2 linked regions of the Homo sapiens genome follow. The protein of the gene in region 2 interacts with the protein of the main gene of each other region in a biochemical or structural test. Each region holds a gene or a part of one and is shown on either strand. Other genes may lie near its edges.

Region 1 (8,168 bases), on a different chromosome or scaffold from region 2:
AATGGATATTTTACATGTGCCTTCTCTACAATTTGAACCTAACTGGAATGAAGAATGGGAAGAAAGAACTACTTTCCTTTCGTTCACTCTTTTTTTTTTTTTTTTTTTTTTTTTTTGAGATGGAGTTTCGCTCTTGTTGCCCAGGCTGGAGTGCAATGGTGCCATCTCATCTCGGCTCACCGCAACCTCTGCCTCCCAGGTTCAAGCAATTCTCCTGCCTCAGCCTCCTGAGTAGCTGGGATTACAGGCATGCACCACCACGCCTGGCTAATTTTGTATTTTTAGTAGAGACGGGGTTTCTCCATGTTGAGGCTGTTCTCGAACTCCTGACCTCAGGTAATCCGCCCGCCTTGGCCTCCCAAAGTGCTGGGATTAGAGGCGTCAGCCACCGCTCCCAGCCTCATTCACTCTTAAAATCTACAGTATCACCATTCCTTTGAAACACACTCTCCACTCAGTAGTGCTGAAGACCAGTATTGTGGTGTTGCCCACCATATTCTTGGCACCCACAAAATACCTGGCAAATCAATAACTATCTTCCCCAAGATTTAAGAAGGAAAATTTTCAAACATAGAAAAATGTCGAAGAATTTTGCAGTGAACACCACTGTAACACCTAAATTCTACCATTAAGACTTTACTGGCTGGGCGCTGTGGCTTATGCCTGTAATCCCAGCACTTTGGGTGGCCAAGGCAGGAGGATCATCTGAGGTCAGGAGTTTTAAAGCAGCCATGGTCAACATGGTGAAACCCCATCTCTACTAAAAAATACAAAAATTAGCCGTGTATGATGGCATGCATCTAATCCCAGCTGCTCGGGAGGCTGAAACAGGAGAATCACCTGAACCTGGGAGGCGGAGATTGCAGTGAGCCAAGACTGTGCCACTGCGCTCCAGCCTGGACAACAGGCTCTGTCTCAAAAAAACAAAAAAAGACTTTACTATTTTGCTTCAGCGTGTAACCACCCACCCAGCCATCCTCTCTGATCCCTCTAATTTTGTATGCATTTCAGTGTCAGTTGCAGATATCATTCCACTTCCCCGCTAAATGCTTCAGCACTCATATAACTGGAGGTGAATATCTGTTCACAATTCTTTTTTCCTCTTTTGAACACCTAATGAAATACAATCTTAAATGTACTATTTAATAAATTTTGACAAATGCATACACCTGTGTAGCCCAAACACCTATCAAAAATATGAAACATTACCCCACAATGCCACCAGAAGAGCCTCAAGCCCATCCCAGTGAAGCTCTGCTCCCACCCACCCACCCTCAAAATCACTCTTGTGATCTTTTTTCACCAGTTTTTCCTGTTCTGGAACTCCGTATAAATAAATTCATACAGGATGTAGTCTTTTGTGTCTGGCTTATTTCACTTAACATAATATTTTTTAGATCATCGATGTTACTGCTTATAATAGCAGTTCTCAATAAATATTGATTAGCTTATTTTAACCACAGTGTTGATTAACCAAGGATTACAGTTGATTAGATGTACTTAAATACAGCTAATATAGCTTGAATGTCTCTTATAAAGCTTTTGCAGGTTCAGAACTGCTATATGTTGTTGACTAGATAAAAGTGGGGCAAGTTTTCTGGGAAAAGAAAAAATGAGGCATCCATCATCTTTTTAGAATTAAAGGAAAAGATATCCAAGGATGATGTTTGAGCACACGAGACAGGTCAGATAGTAACTGACTACAAGCCTCTCCCCTTCTCTCAGGTGTAGGTATGACAGCTAAAGATGGCATTTTCCACAGGAAGGTTGTTCTGGAATATTCATTTACACTTGGAGGCTATACCCCAAAGCAGGACAAGCCCTGCCAAGGGGGAATCTCTGTATTTCAGTTCTCTCGGCAGCAGTTCCTCATTCTCTAAGGAGGGGGCCTGACAACCGGCTTCAAGGAAGCAGAGGATAGAGCTTCCACTCAGTGTCTGTTGTGGTAAACGTGACTGGCTTTTTGGGGGAGTCCCAATTATTTGGAAGAGCCCCAACTGAAAATTTTCAAAAGAATTCCCTCTAGCCCACAACTGCCTTCTCTAAAAGTGGGTTCCCAGGCTCAGGAAGGGTGTGGGACTCTGTGCTATGTGACATAAAAATTTTGTGTTTATCAGTGATTTGACATTCTTGTTAGGTGTAATCAGGTAGTTTTCACCTCTCAGAGTTTATATTTTCTTTCCTATCAGTCAAATGGGCTAAATTCACTGGTGGACTGGAGGTGACACCAGCTTGCATGTGGCCCAGATTGCAACTGGTGGCACCTGCAATCTCAGGTAGCCCTTCTAGGTGAAGCCAGGTGGAGATCTAAACACTTTAACTAAAGGTCTGGCTCCGCAGCCTCTTTCCTGAGAGCTGTGGGGGGCACAAGGCACAGAATTAAAACAGGGTCCGACATAGGGAACTCCAAGGAGTGTGCTCTTTAAGATCACACCAGCCTTTTTCAGCACCATTTTGCCTTTTTTTTTTTTTTTTTTTTTTTTGAGATGGAGTCTCGCTCTGTCGCCAGGCTGGAGTGCAGTGGCATGATCTCAGCTCACTGCAACCTCCGCCTCCCAGGTTGAAGCTATTCTCCTCTCTCAGCCTCCCGAGTAGCTGGGACTACAGGTATGTGCCACCACGCCCAGCTAATTTTTGTATTTGTAGTAGAGACCGGGTTTCACCATGTTGACCAGGATGGTCTCAATCTCTTGACCTCGTGATCCACCCGCCTCGGCCTCCCAGAGTGCTGGGATTGCAGGCGTGACCCACAGCTCGCGGCCCATTTTACTTTTAAACCGTTATTTAGCACCCAAACTCAGGGATACTTGGGAGTAGAAATTAGAACGGGACAGATAAGTGGGGAGACTGGTGTTGATGGAAACCTCAGTGAGAAAAGTGTAGATGGGATTACAGTTGACAACTGGTTGCCTTGATTTAGGATAATTGGGGAAAGGGAGGCTGGGGCACATTGAAACACCCAGGTTGTCGCTGCCTACCCCAGCTGCTAACATGACCAGCTGTAAACTTGCTCTGTTCTTAGAAACCTCCCTTCCAAAACATGGATTCTCCCGCCAGTGCTCAAGATGGGACACATTACCACTAAGTAAGCACTTTTCTTAGGAGCATTTCTTAGGCTGTTAAAATGCCAAGACTCCTAACCATCCTTGGTAGCTTTGAACCTATGTAAAGAGGTCAGTTAGCTGCCCTAGTTTATTCCTCAGAATGATGAGATTTGGCACTGAAAATATTGTTCATACTGAGCCTCCCATCAAATGCAATAAGTAGATAACCACAAATACCCACCCTTTTATGCTCATAACTCAGCATGTTGGAAACTATTTTCCCTTGACCTATTGCCAGCCCATCACGCCCCACACCCAGGAGAACTCAAGCCCCAAACCGGCCGCTGAATAGTCACGCTTTTCTGCAGGACATACCTACTATTAGGGCCAAAACTTTGTCCACCCTTCAAAGGAAGTCGATGTTTCCATATAAAGGTCCCCTCAAATGCAACAGCAAGCCCGTGGGAGAGGGGTTAGCAGAGGCTACGGCCAGCCCACGGGCTTTCTTCGACCTTGATTATGACCAGGAGTGTAGCTGTTAATTGCGAGGCTTGCCTCAAGGTGGAAAACAGTATCGGTTTCCACTGCCACCCCAGAGAAGGCAAGTTCCGCGGCTGGCGGTGCTGGGGACACGGTCCCTCCCAGGCCCATCTCTTGCCACCCAGAGAGCTGCTCGGAGGCCGCCTACAGGTGCAATCCCGGCACTGCGGCCGGGGCGTCGGGCCGGGGAGGGCGTCCAAGCCCACCAGCATCTCCGCCGGCCCTTCCCAAAGCCTGAACAGGGCCCCGGCGTGCCCGCCGCCTTCTACCCCCGGTTTCCCCGCGCCTCTGCCCCGGCGCGGTTTGGATAGGAAGCTGGGAGCCCTCCCAGGCTCCGCAGACTCGGATTTGGGAGGGGGTGGGACGCGGCCGAGGCTTCCCCTCGAATCTGCGGCAAGCCTGGCTCCAGGAAAGTTTTTCAAAGTTCCCAGCAGCGTCTGCCCAGGTCGCCTCCGCGGGGCGAGCAGACGGCGGCAAGCGCGCCAGCCTCGCCGCCGCCTCTGCCGCCAGCAGAGCGCTCTGGGCGGCTCGCTCGCGGGAAGCGGGCCGAACTCCCGGCGGGCAGGCAGGCCCTCCTCCCGGGGCGAAAGCCGCAGCTGACGCAGGCGGTTCGGAAGGCGGAAGCTGCCCCGCTCCGACCGCTCAGTCAGCGCCGCGGCGCCTACACCTGGGGCCCCGACGCGCGGGCAAAGGCGCACGGCCCGGGGCGCCCGAGGGGGCGGTCCCCGCTGGGGGCCTCCAGGCGTCCCTGAGCAACGATCCCTTCCAAGTACCTCCCCGCACTCTCCCTTCCCTCCTGGCCCGAAGCTCCCGAGGGCGGGGGTTGGTGTGGGGCCCTGGTTCTTCTACGCCGCCCTGAGCATCCCGCTGCCCCCAACCCCTTCCAAGTTCCTCCTCGCACTACCCCCTCCCCAGCAACGTGAAGGGGAGGGGCGTGCCCAGGGTGAGCACGCCCTCTCATGAATATTAATAAGCGCGCATGCGCCCTGCCCGGCGTGCTGGGTAGAGGTGGCCAGCCCCGGCCGCTGCTGCCAGACGGGCTCTCCGGGTCCTTCTCCGAGAGCCGGGCGGGCACGCGTCATTGTGTTACCTGCGGCCGGCCCGCGAGCTAGGCTGGTTTTTTTTTTTCTCCCCTCCCTCCCCCCTTTTTCCATGCAGCTGATCTAAAAGGGAATAAAAGGCTGCGCATAATCATAATAATAAAAGAAGGGGAGCGCGAGAGAAGGAAAGAAAGCCGGGAGGTGGAAGAGGAGGGGGAGCGTCTCAAAGAAGCGATCAGAATAATAAAAGGAGGCCGGGCTCTTTGCCTTCTGGAACGGGCCGCTCTTGAAAGGGCTTTTGAAAAGTGGTGTTGTTTTCCAGTCGTGCATGCTCCAATCGGCGGAGTATATTAGAGCCGGGACGCGGCGGCCGCAGGGGCAGCGGCGACGGCAGCACCGGCGGCAGCACCAGCGCGAACAGCAGCGGCGGCGTCCCGAGTGCCCGCGGCGCGCGGCGCAGCGATGCGTTCCCCACGGACGCGCGGCCGGTCCGGGCGCCCCCTAAGCCTCCTGCTCGCCCTGCTCTGTGCCCTGCGAGCCAAGGTAGGAGCCCTTCTCCGGGCCTCCCTCCCAGCCGTCCTCTCCCTCCCCTCGCGGCGCCCTGGGCGGTTGAGCCCCGCGAGCAGGCTCGGCAGCCCTCGAGCGCCCGACTCCTCGCCCCTGCGCCCGAGCGGCTGCACCTGGGCTGAGCGCGCCAACTCCCCCACGGGAGCCCCTGCCTCCTGAGGGTGACCCCTCCAGGCCGGACAGGGGCGCGTTCGCTCCGCTGTTGCCCCCCGGGAAGTCGTCGGATTTCTTCCGCACTCGTGCATTTTTTTTTTTTTTTGCCCCGGAATCATGTTGAGTCCTTGAACGTAGTTTCGCAAAATTATTTTCACTCGGCGAGGAGGGCTCGTCGGGGCGGGGAGTGGGAGGGAGTCGCCACCTCTATACTCGAAGAAAACAGCTTTCTCCCGCGCTGACCTACCTCCTTCCCTCGCCGGCAGGTGTGTGGGGCCTCGGGTCAGTTCGAGTTGGAGATCCTGTCCATGCAGAACGTGAACGGGGAGCTGCAGAACGGGAACTGCTGCGGCGGCGCCCGGAACCCGGGAGACCGCAAGTGCACCCGCGACGAGTGTGACACATACTTCAAAGTGTGCCTCAAGGAGTATCAGTCCCGCGTCACGGCCGGGGGGCCCTGCAGCTTCGGCTCAGGGTCCACGCCTGTCATCGGGGGCAACACCTTCAACCTCAAGGCCAGCCGCGGCAACGACCGCAACCGCATCGTGCTGCCTTTCAGTTTCGCCTGGCCGGTGAGTGACTACTCGGGAAGGAGGCCGGGCGGAGCCTCACACCCGCGCCTGGCCGAGCCCTGTTATCCCTTGCGAGAGGGATTTAAAGGGCTTTGGCTTGAAACTAGGCGCTAACTGGGGAAATCTCTAGGGGTGGCGGGTGAGGGAGCCGGGACACTATAGTTAGATCTCGGCTGGGGTAGTCGAGGTGGGTCCCATTCCTGCTGCTATTTGCTTAGTGCACAAAAGTGGGGATCCCAGAGGGTTTATGGGACCAGGCTCCTAGGAAGGCCGGTGTAAACTTGCAACTTGAAGTTCCCAGAGTAACTCTCCCGGCCCCAAGCCAAGAGATCGTTGTAGCTGATCTCTTTGCTTAACTAATTAAACCTGGTGCGCCGTGGAAGGCGACTCGGCGCAGTTCTGGCCTGCGAACGCCGTCCAAATTGGCAACCTCCCCTTTCCCGTGAACGGCCGGGAGGGCGGGTGTGTCCTTCCTGGAGGGTGTGGGGGAGTCCGTTTCCCGCTGCTCCCCGGGAGATTTTAGTGTGTGCGGGGGCGCTCTCCAGGTTCGGCTTAAGGGCCGGGGGCGGCCGCCGCAGGAGGAGGTTCTTGGGGCCCTCACAGGAGCTGTAGACCTGGGAACCCCCGCCCGCTGCTGGCCCCTTCCTGCCCCCGCCCCCGAGTGGTGTAGCTCTTGTGGCCTCACTTCCAGCGGTTCCCGGGCTCTGGAACAGCTGTGTTTGCAGACTTCCCCGGGAAGGGCGGGTGCACGGCCCCCGCAAGCCTTCGGGGGCCGTGCCAAGGCTTGGAAGGGGTGGTCTTCTGGAGGTAGTGCCTGAGGGTGTAAGTGATAGGCCCTCATCCCCCCGCCCCATTCCGCCCCCAAAGGAGCTCGAGGCCCGGGCCCAGCTGGCAGATCCTGCAGCGAGGCCCTTGCAACATCCCAAAATGGGTGGAAGGAAGATGGGTGCGATTGCAGAAGGGGAGGAAAGGGAAATGTTGGGGGTGTGCCCTCTGCCTGGCTCCTGCTGTCCAGGAGGCATGACTCATTGCCAAGACTGGGGCTTGGCCTAGCCTGTGCTGGGAGGGTGGGTGGTGAGAGGGGGAGCTCGGTGCCCCAGAGCATTGCTTTCCACCACGTGCTCTAATGGGGTGCACTCTGCTGCCTCCTGTCCGCCGGCTTAGGTTGTGATTCTGGGAGGAGACAGAGGGGAGACTATCTGGCTGTGTCTGTGTATGAAGCTTGGGGTGGCTCTTAAAATCCACGATTACAGGAGCTGGCATTATAAAGTGCCCTCTGCTGTGGGTGAGATAAGACAGTTATCAAAAACTGCCATGAAAAGGGGTTTATAAAAAGAAAAATTAAAACCAACGCTGTCTGTGAAGCTCTCTTGAGGTCCAAGGGCTGTTTCTGTTGTGGGATTTCATTTTTACCAAGAGTATTTATCTTGTTTGTTAATCCCCTATTAGGGAGAACTTTAAGCTAAAGAGTCTGGCTGCGTTTAAATCTGGCTGGCCCAAGCTGACTGTGAATACTCAAACTGCCCTTGAACGTGTGTTTGGAGTTTAGGGGGAAGGGGCCTGCAGGTGGTTCCACCCTCCTGCCGGAGGATCTGTCTGGAGCCCCTCGCTTTTCACAAGACCATAAAAGGAATCTTATTAGTGATGTGGAAAAGCAGCAGCCTGGCTGAGGCTCATTTTGGAGAGTAGGGTCAGAGGGATGGCTAACATGAAAACAAGGAGGCTTGCTCCCTCGCTGGCCAAGGAAAAGTGACCTAGAAAAGTGCGTCTGTCCGCTTTTGACACTTGGTCAGAGTCCTCAATGGAAAACGAGCGGAAATAGTGTGGGAGGGTAGGAGAGGCGATTGATTTGCATTTGCTGGTGCTCTTCTGTGGTTTCAGGCCCCACGGGTCACCAACCATGAAATAGACTCTCGGCTTTTCTCGAATGGGGGAAGACCGATGGGGCACCACTGAAAATGTGGTTCTTTTGAAGTTGGGACAAACGCATGTATCACTCATAAACAAGTCTCCACCCTGATGCCCCAGAAAGGCCTGCTGTGAAACATAAGATTTAATTCTCAAGAGAAATTGGAGTTTAGGTGTATTTGTTTTTCTGTATGTGGTTGGAGAAACGGCACAGTCCGTAACTTTCAAGAATGATTCCAGGCTGAGTAGAAACGTAACTGAAACACTTAAGTAGCTGAGCGAGTATTTAACTAGAGGGCACAGCTTCATTTAGTTTGGCAATTAACTATGTCTTTTAAAACTGA
Region 2 (6,211 bases):
TCTCAAGCTCCTGGGCTCAAGCAATCCTCCTGCCTCAGCCTCCCAAAGTCTGGGATTACAGACATGAGCCAGCTCTCACTCTTGGTGAGAGCTGTGGTCAAGCTCCTCCAGCCTCTTCCCCACTTTTGGGAGGCTTTCTGGGCAGTGGCCAAGGCTTTGAAAGATGCAGATCTTGGGGCCAAGGACCCACATCCAGCAGGCCTAGCTGGCTCCTTAGCATGGCCCCCCGACCCTCTCCTGCTTTTGCTGGACCCCAGTAAGCAGGACCAGGTAACCCTGATGCAAGGAACAGGCCATGGCTGTGCAAGGCCATGCAGAGGCTGGGTAGCCTGAGCATCCTCCCTGGAACAGGATGGGCAGGCAGGTATCCCATGTGCCTCTGAGGCCTGGTGCTGCCAAATGAGCTCAATTCCAACACTGTGCCTAGACCTTGGGGCCAGTCTGGCTGCCTCCTCCCCACCACCCCTCTCCCCTCAGCCTTCCCCACCACTCGGATCACTTAGCGCATCTAGAACACTTCTCTAAAGGACTCTATCCAGAGGCTTCCCTTTTCTCCTCAGTGGCACCACCCATTTGGTATAGGCCTCTGCACCCACCAGTGGGAACACAGCTGAACTCCCTCCAGATGTGGGGGTCTGAGCCTGGGGAGAGGGGTGGAAGCCTTGTTCCTGGGGAGCTCAGAGCACAGCCCCTGATGACCTGAGTTGACCACTTGTCATCCTCCCATTAGCCCCCTAGGTGGCACTGCGCACCCCCCTACAAGCGGCAGATTTGAGCCCTGCTCAGCCTTAAGGAGAAGCCCCATCCCAGGGCACCTTCCCCACCACACCCTGCTCCTCACAGATGCAGTAGCCTCTCCCAATTTGCAAGGCTCACCTGGCATTCTAGACCCAAGTCACGCTCCAGCCCCCGACTCCAGGGAGTCTTCCCTGATTGCCCCAGCCCACCTTGAAGCCTCAGAGGCCTGCAATTACCCCTCAGGGAAGGGCCACAGCTCCTGATGACTCCCCTAGTATCCAGGACACCAGGCCTCCACACCCCAGCCTGCCCCCACATGTGCACGCACACGCTGGCCCTCCTTCCCCAGTGCTCTGCGCACAGCACCGCCCTCAGGCTGGTACGAAATCACTTTTATTCACAATCACAGCGACCCAAGTGCACAAGGGAAGCAGCAGCCACCCCTGCACTGACAGAGGTAATGAGATGATGGCTTCCTCTCCCCAACCCTCAGCCTCTGGGATCCCTGGCTGGGGGGCCCGCTAGCCAGCCCCCGCTCCCTCCCACACAGAAGGGGTCTCCCAGGGTCAGTGACTGGGTAGTGGAGACCCATAGTGGGACAGTGACTTCCCCACACACCCACTGCAAGGCCAGCACAAAGGCCCAGCCTGAGGTCCTGGCACACCACCCCCTGGCAGCCCTCACGGAAGAACTCCCGAGTCACACAGAAAGCCTGCCCCTCTCTCCCGAAACAACCATTTTATAGAAATGGAAGCTGGGCTCCAGGGGGCTACGACTCGGCCAGGGCCACACAGCTGGTCAGTGGCCAGGACTAAAACCCATGCCCTGCCTGCCACACAGAGGTGCAGTCTCTGATGGATGCAAAAAAAAACAAAAACAAAAAGCCATCTGAGGGGGCAGAGGGCTGGGAGGCTGGGAGAGCCCAGGCCAGGGCAGGCAGGGCTGAGAGGACCGACCTCAGCAGGTGGGGCGCTCCCTCCCCAGAACTTAGAGAACCTGGAGGTGTGAGAGGCAGCCCTTGCCTCCTCATCTTCCCTACGAACAGGCTCCCTGCCCCGCCATCACAAGGTCTCCCTGTCCTGTTCCTGGCCCACACTAGGAACACTGGCCCTCCTGGAAGTTTGACGTCCTTATGGAGGGGGGACCTCCTGGGCCACCTGAGGTACCTAAGCCAACCATGATAACCCAGCTCTGGCCCAGGAGGAAGGGTGCTCTATGGCTCTGGGTGACCATCAGCCCCAGGGCACTAAGGAGGCTTGGTTTGCCTCTCTGTAAAATAGACACTGTTTGCCAAAAGGCCTCCCAATTTGGCCCCTCCTTATGGAGTTCCAGTTCATGATTGGTAGGGCTGGGTATGAGCTTTGTGGCTGGAGTCAGGGGAAGATACTGCATTATGACTGCCTCAGCCACACCCTTTCCCAGGTACCCCACACACAAAGGCAGCATTTCTAGGGGCCCAGAGGATGGGAACTCACCTACAAACAAACAAACAAAAAAAACCCAAAACCACAAACCAAATAAATAAATTAATTAAACTGAGGAAAAAGGCTGGTCTTGGCCCAGGGAACCCACACCTCCCCACCCAGGGCCCTGGCCCATCCCAGGTGTGCCACAGGCTCTGACTATCAGCCTAGGCCCTGGACAGCACAAGATATGGGGAAAAGGTCAGAGAGGGTAGCTGCAAACCTGTTCTTAGGGACCCTGGCAGAAGACCAACCCTTCTCCCCAGCCCATACCGAAGGGCTACCCCTGGGCAATGGCATCCAGCGAGATGATTGGGGCAGGAAGGCTACAGCCAGGACAGGATCCTCCCCTTCTCAGCCAGGGGCCCAGAACCTGGAGCCCTCTGCAGCCTGTCCATGTGCCCATCAGGTAGTGGGAGAGAGACATGGCATGAGGCTGCAGCCTGCCCAGGACGGGAGGCAACCACCAGCCTCTCACCCCCAGCTGCCATGCCCAGTGGGCAGGGAACGAAGAAAGAGAAGGTAGGCATAGGTCAGAGAGGGAGACAGCAGCTCAGGAGCGGCCTGCCCAGGGCGGTTGTTGAGCAGGCTGTACACTGCTCAAGGGCAGTTGGCTGAGAGGGCAAATGAGCCTAAAATCCACTCCATGCTGCACTAGCCAGGCCACATGTCCTGGCTCAGGGCTGCAGCTGCCCAGAGGAAGGTACATGTTTTCTAATTCTCACAAAGGTGCCACATGGACTACAGACACCTCCTAGAAACCTGCCTCAGATGGGGAAAGATTAGGGCAGGCTGAGATCCCAATTTAGCCCTCAGCATGCAGAGAGGAGCTGGGTGCAGAGACGGGAGAGACAGGGAGAGTGCGGCCTCCTCTCCTCCCCTCCCTCTGCCCGGTGATTTGCCTCTGCCCCCTCCCTGCCTGATACCCCCCTCTCCCCAAACCTTCAAGGGCTTCAGTTTCCCATGTTTAATAGAGGAGGAAAAGTTTCCAAAATGAGGAAGAGAAGGGGCCCCACTGGCTTGTTCCTCAGCTGGGACTGGGCTGAAGCCCGAGAAGATGGGTATGCGGGATGGGCCACCGCAACGGGCTAGGAGCTGCGGTAGGTCTTGATGATGTCCTTGATGGGGCGGCGGCAGATGGGGCAGCAGGCGTGCAGAGCCTTCTTGAGGCGCAGGCCACAGGCGTAGCAGAGGCACATGTGGCCACATGTGTAGATGACCGTGTCCACCGCGTGTTCATAGCAAATGGTGCACTCATCGCTCCACTGGCCCAGACCTGGGGTCACTGGCGACTCGGGCAGGCTCACTGGCGAATTGGGGGCTGTCCCTGAGGACAAGGGGGCACCAGTCAGGAGGAGACATGGCCCAACCCGGCGCTGGATTCACGGGAAGAGAGCTCCCCGGCCTCTTGTGTCCCCCTCCATTTATCAGGATCTGCCTGTTCACCCTGACAACCCAACTTCCAGGGCACAAGGGAAGAGGCTGAGCTCTGAGCAGCCCCACTTCTGACCCACTCCAACCCCAGATGAGGGGACAGAGTGGCTAGGAGGCAGTGAGAGAAAAGAAGGCAAGATGGAGGAAGGAAAGGGTCCAGAATCTTTTAAGGTAGGTCCCTCCTGAGCTACCCTTTGGCACTGCCCAGCTAGGGGACAGGAGGGGATGACCCCAGAAATCACCCCCCAACAAGGGTTTACTGAGCCCAACTCCAGCTCCTCTCCACTCCCAGCCCCGGACACAAAGGCTGCATCCTTGCTGCAGTCCCACATGGTCACCAAGGAACAGAGGAGCCAGCCTACTTACCACCAGCAGAGCTACCCAGAGGGCCAGAGCTGCACGTGCTGAGCAAGGGGTCAGACAGGCGGCTGCCCAGGGCACTGGGCGAGGTTGGCGTGGAGGCAGGGGAGCAGGGGAGTGATGGGATACCCCGCTCGGCCAGGATAGTGGAGCCTGTGAAAGGGGAGGGAGGGAAGGACACACTAGCTGCCTGCCCAGGCCAAACTGGAGAAAGCTCTGTCCCTCACAGTGGGTTCCCAGGCCTGACCACACAGCCCAGCCACAGGGCCAAGAGCGGGATTTTGCAGGCTGGCGCGGGGATCATTTGATATTACCGCCGTGGAGTATAGCTAATCAGCTAAAGACTTTGACCCCAGACAGCACCCAGCCTGGCCTCTGTTCTCACCTATGAACTGGAGGGTCATATCCTGCTTTCTTCTTGTTAAAACAGCAGCTCCAAACTAGGCCCCTGCCTGGCACCTACCTCCGCCCCTCCCCATGTATGCTTTCTGCAAAGCTTCCTGGGCCGGAGCATGTATATTACCATCTCCCCTGCCCCGCAACCTCACCCTCCTGTTCGGAGCCCTGAGCTCTTCACCACTGTCCCCAGATATCACCCACCTTTTCTGCATGGCACCTCTGCAGTGCCTTCACTTTTTCCCACCTTGTTCTGATCATAGATTCTCTCCTCCCCTCCTTCCTCCTTCCGTCACTCACTTCCTCTCCTTTTTTTTTTTTTTTTTTTCAGACGGAGTCTCGCTGTCGCCAGGCTGGAGTGCAGTGGCACGACCTCGGCTCACTACAATCTCCACATCCCAGGTTCAAGAGATTCTCCTGCCTCAGCCTCCTGAGTAGTTGGGATCATAGGCACATGCCACCACACCCAGCTAATTTTTTAATATTTTTAATAGAGACGGGGTTTCACCATGTTGGCCAAGATGGTCTCCATCTCCTCACCTCGTGATCTGCCAGCCTCGGCTCCCAAAGTGCTGGGATTGCTGGGGTGAGCCGCTGCGCCCGGCCTTCCTCTCCTTTTTAACAATCCTCGCCTCCCTCTTTCCCTCCTTCCTTCTCTCCTCCCTTCAACAAATCCTTACCAAGGACCTACCAGGCATCAGGCCCCGTGCAGACAGAAAGCTAGAGACAGCCCCTGACTTCAAAGAGCTGGCTGTCCAGGGAGCCTCTGACAGCTGTCCTCAAACTCCTTCCTCTGGGCCGCCCTGACTACCCCCAGACCACATTACTCCCTCAAGTACACACACACATGCACTACAGACATACAACTACACAACCACAAAGGCTGGGGTAATATTTGTTCTGTGCCCAGGACTCCAGTTTTGTTTCTCCAGTGAAACCATGAGCTTTCTTTTTTTTTTTTTTTTGAGACGGAGTCTTGCTCTGTCGCCCAGGCTGGAGTGCAGTGGCGCAATCTCAGCTCACTGCAAGCTCCACCTCCCGGGTTCACACCATTCTCCTACCTCAGCCTCCTGAGTAGCTGGGACTACAGGCGCCTGCCACCAGGCCCAGCTAATTTTTTTTGTATTTTTAGTAGAAACGGGGTTTCATCATGTTAACCAGGGTGGTCTCGATCTCCTGACCTTGTGATCCACCCGCCTCAGCCTCCCAAAGTGCTGAGATTACAGGTGTGAGCCGCCGCGCCCAGCCCATGAGCTTTCTTAGAACAGGAAATAGTATTCACCTGTGACTCTCCTACAAATCCTAACATAATGCCCTGCACACACCTAAGTGCCCAATGAGATCTTTTTTATCTGTAGTTATTCTAATTCATTTAGTTGTGTTATTATTTCTAAGAATATTCAATAGATGCCCACAGGGTTTCTCTTACTGTGTTAATATTTTTCCAAGTTAATTATCATCTCCTTCTTTCAGGAATTCACAACTCCTATTTACTTTTCTTGCCTTGTTGCATTGGCCAGAATTTTCAGAACAACATCTGTAAGCCATCTCTATTATATTCCTGACTTTCATGAGAATATTTCTGATGTTTCACCAATAAGTATGGAACTGGCTGTATGTTTTGTGATACACATGAGTGAAGGAAATAACCTTCTATTTTTAGTATACTTAGGCTAGCCACAAAGCCAAGCATTCCTCTATAAGGTTAATAATGACCCTTCATACATTGCCACTGGTTAGTTATTCTTTTGAAGTCAGTCAGGATCTTCAAACACCAATTTGCTGGTTGTGATGCCCAATTTTCCAAACAGATCAGGAGC

The links. Proteins that work in one complex are often made in the same cells at the same time.
Region 1: of the proteins of NEURL1 (region 2) and JAG1, one has a biochemical effect on the other in vitro, tested with the Homo sapiens proteins (one study listed by BioGRID).

Annotation. Positions count from the first base shown.
Region 1 is NC_000020.11:10,670,449-10,678,616, reverse strand, and holds the start of JAG1 (protein jagged-1 precursor), read left to right. Parts: upstream 1-4,617; 5' UTR 4,618-5,086; coding exon 5,087-5,167; intron 5,168-5,610; coding exon 5,611-5,916; intron 5,917-8,168. UniProt on the Homo sapiens protein: Ligand for multiple Notch receptors and involved in the mediation of Notch signaling. May be involved in cell-fate decisions during hematopoiesis. Seems to be involved in early and late stages of mammalian cardiovascular development.
Region 2 is NC_000010.11:103,587,451-103,593,661, reverse strand, and holds the end of NEURL1 (E3 ubiquitin-protein ligase NEURL1), read right to left. Parts: intron 4,149-6,211; coding exon 4,002-4,148; intron 3,529-4,001; coding exon 3,290-3,528; 3' UTR 1,116-3,289; downstream 1-1,115.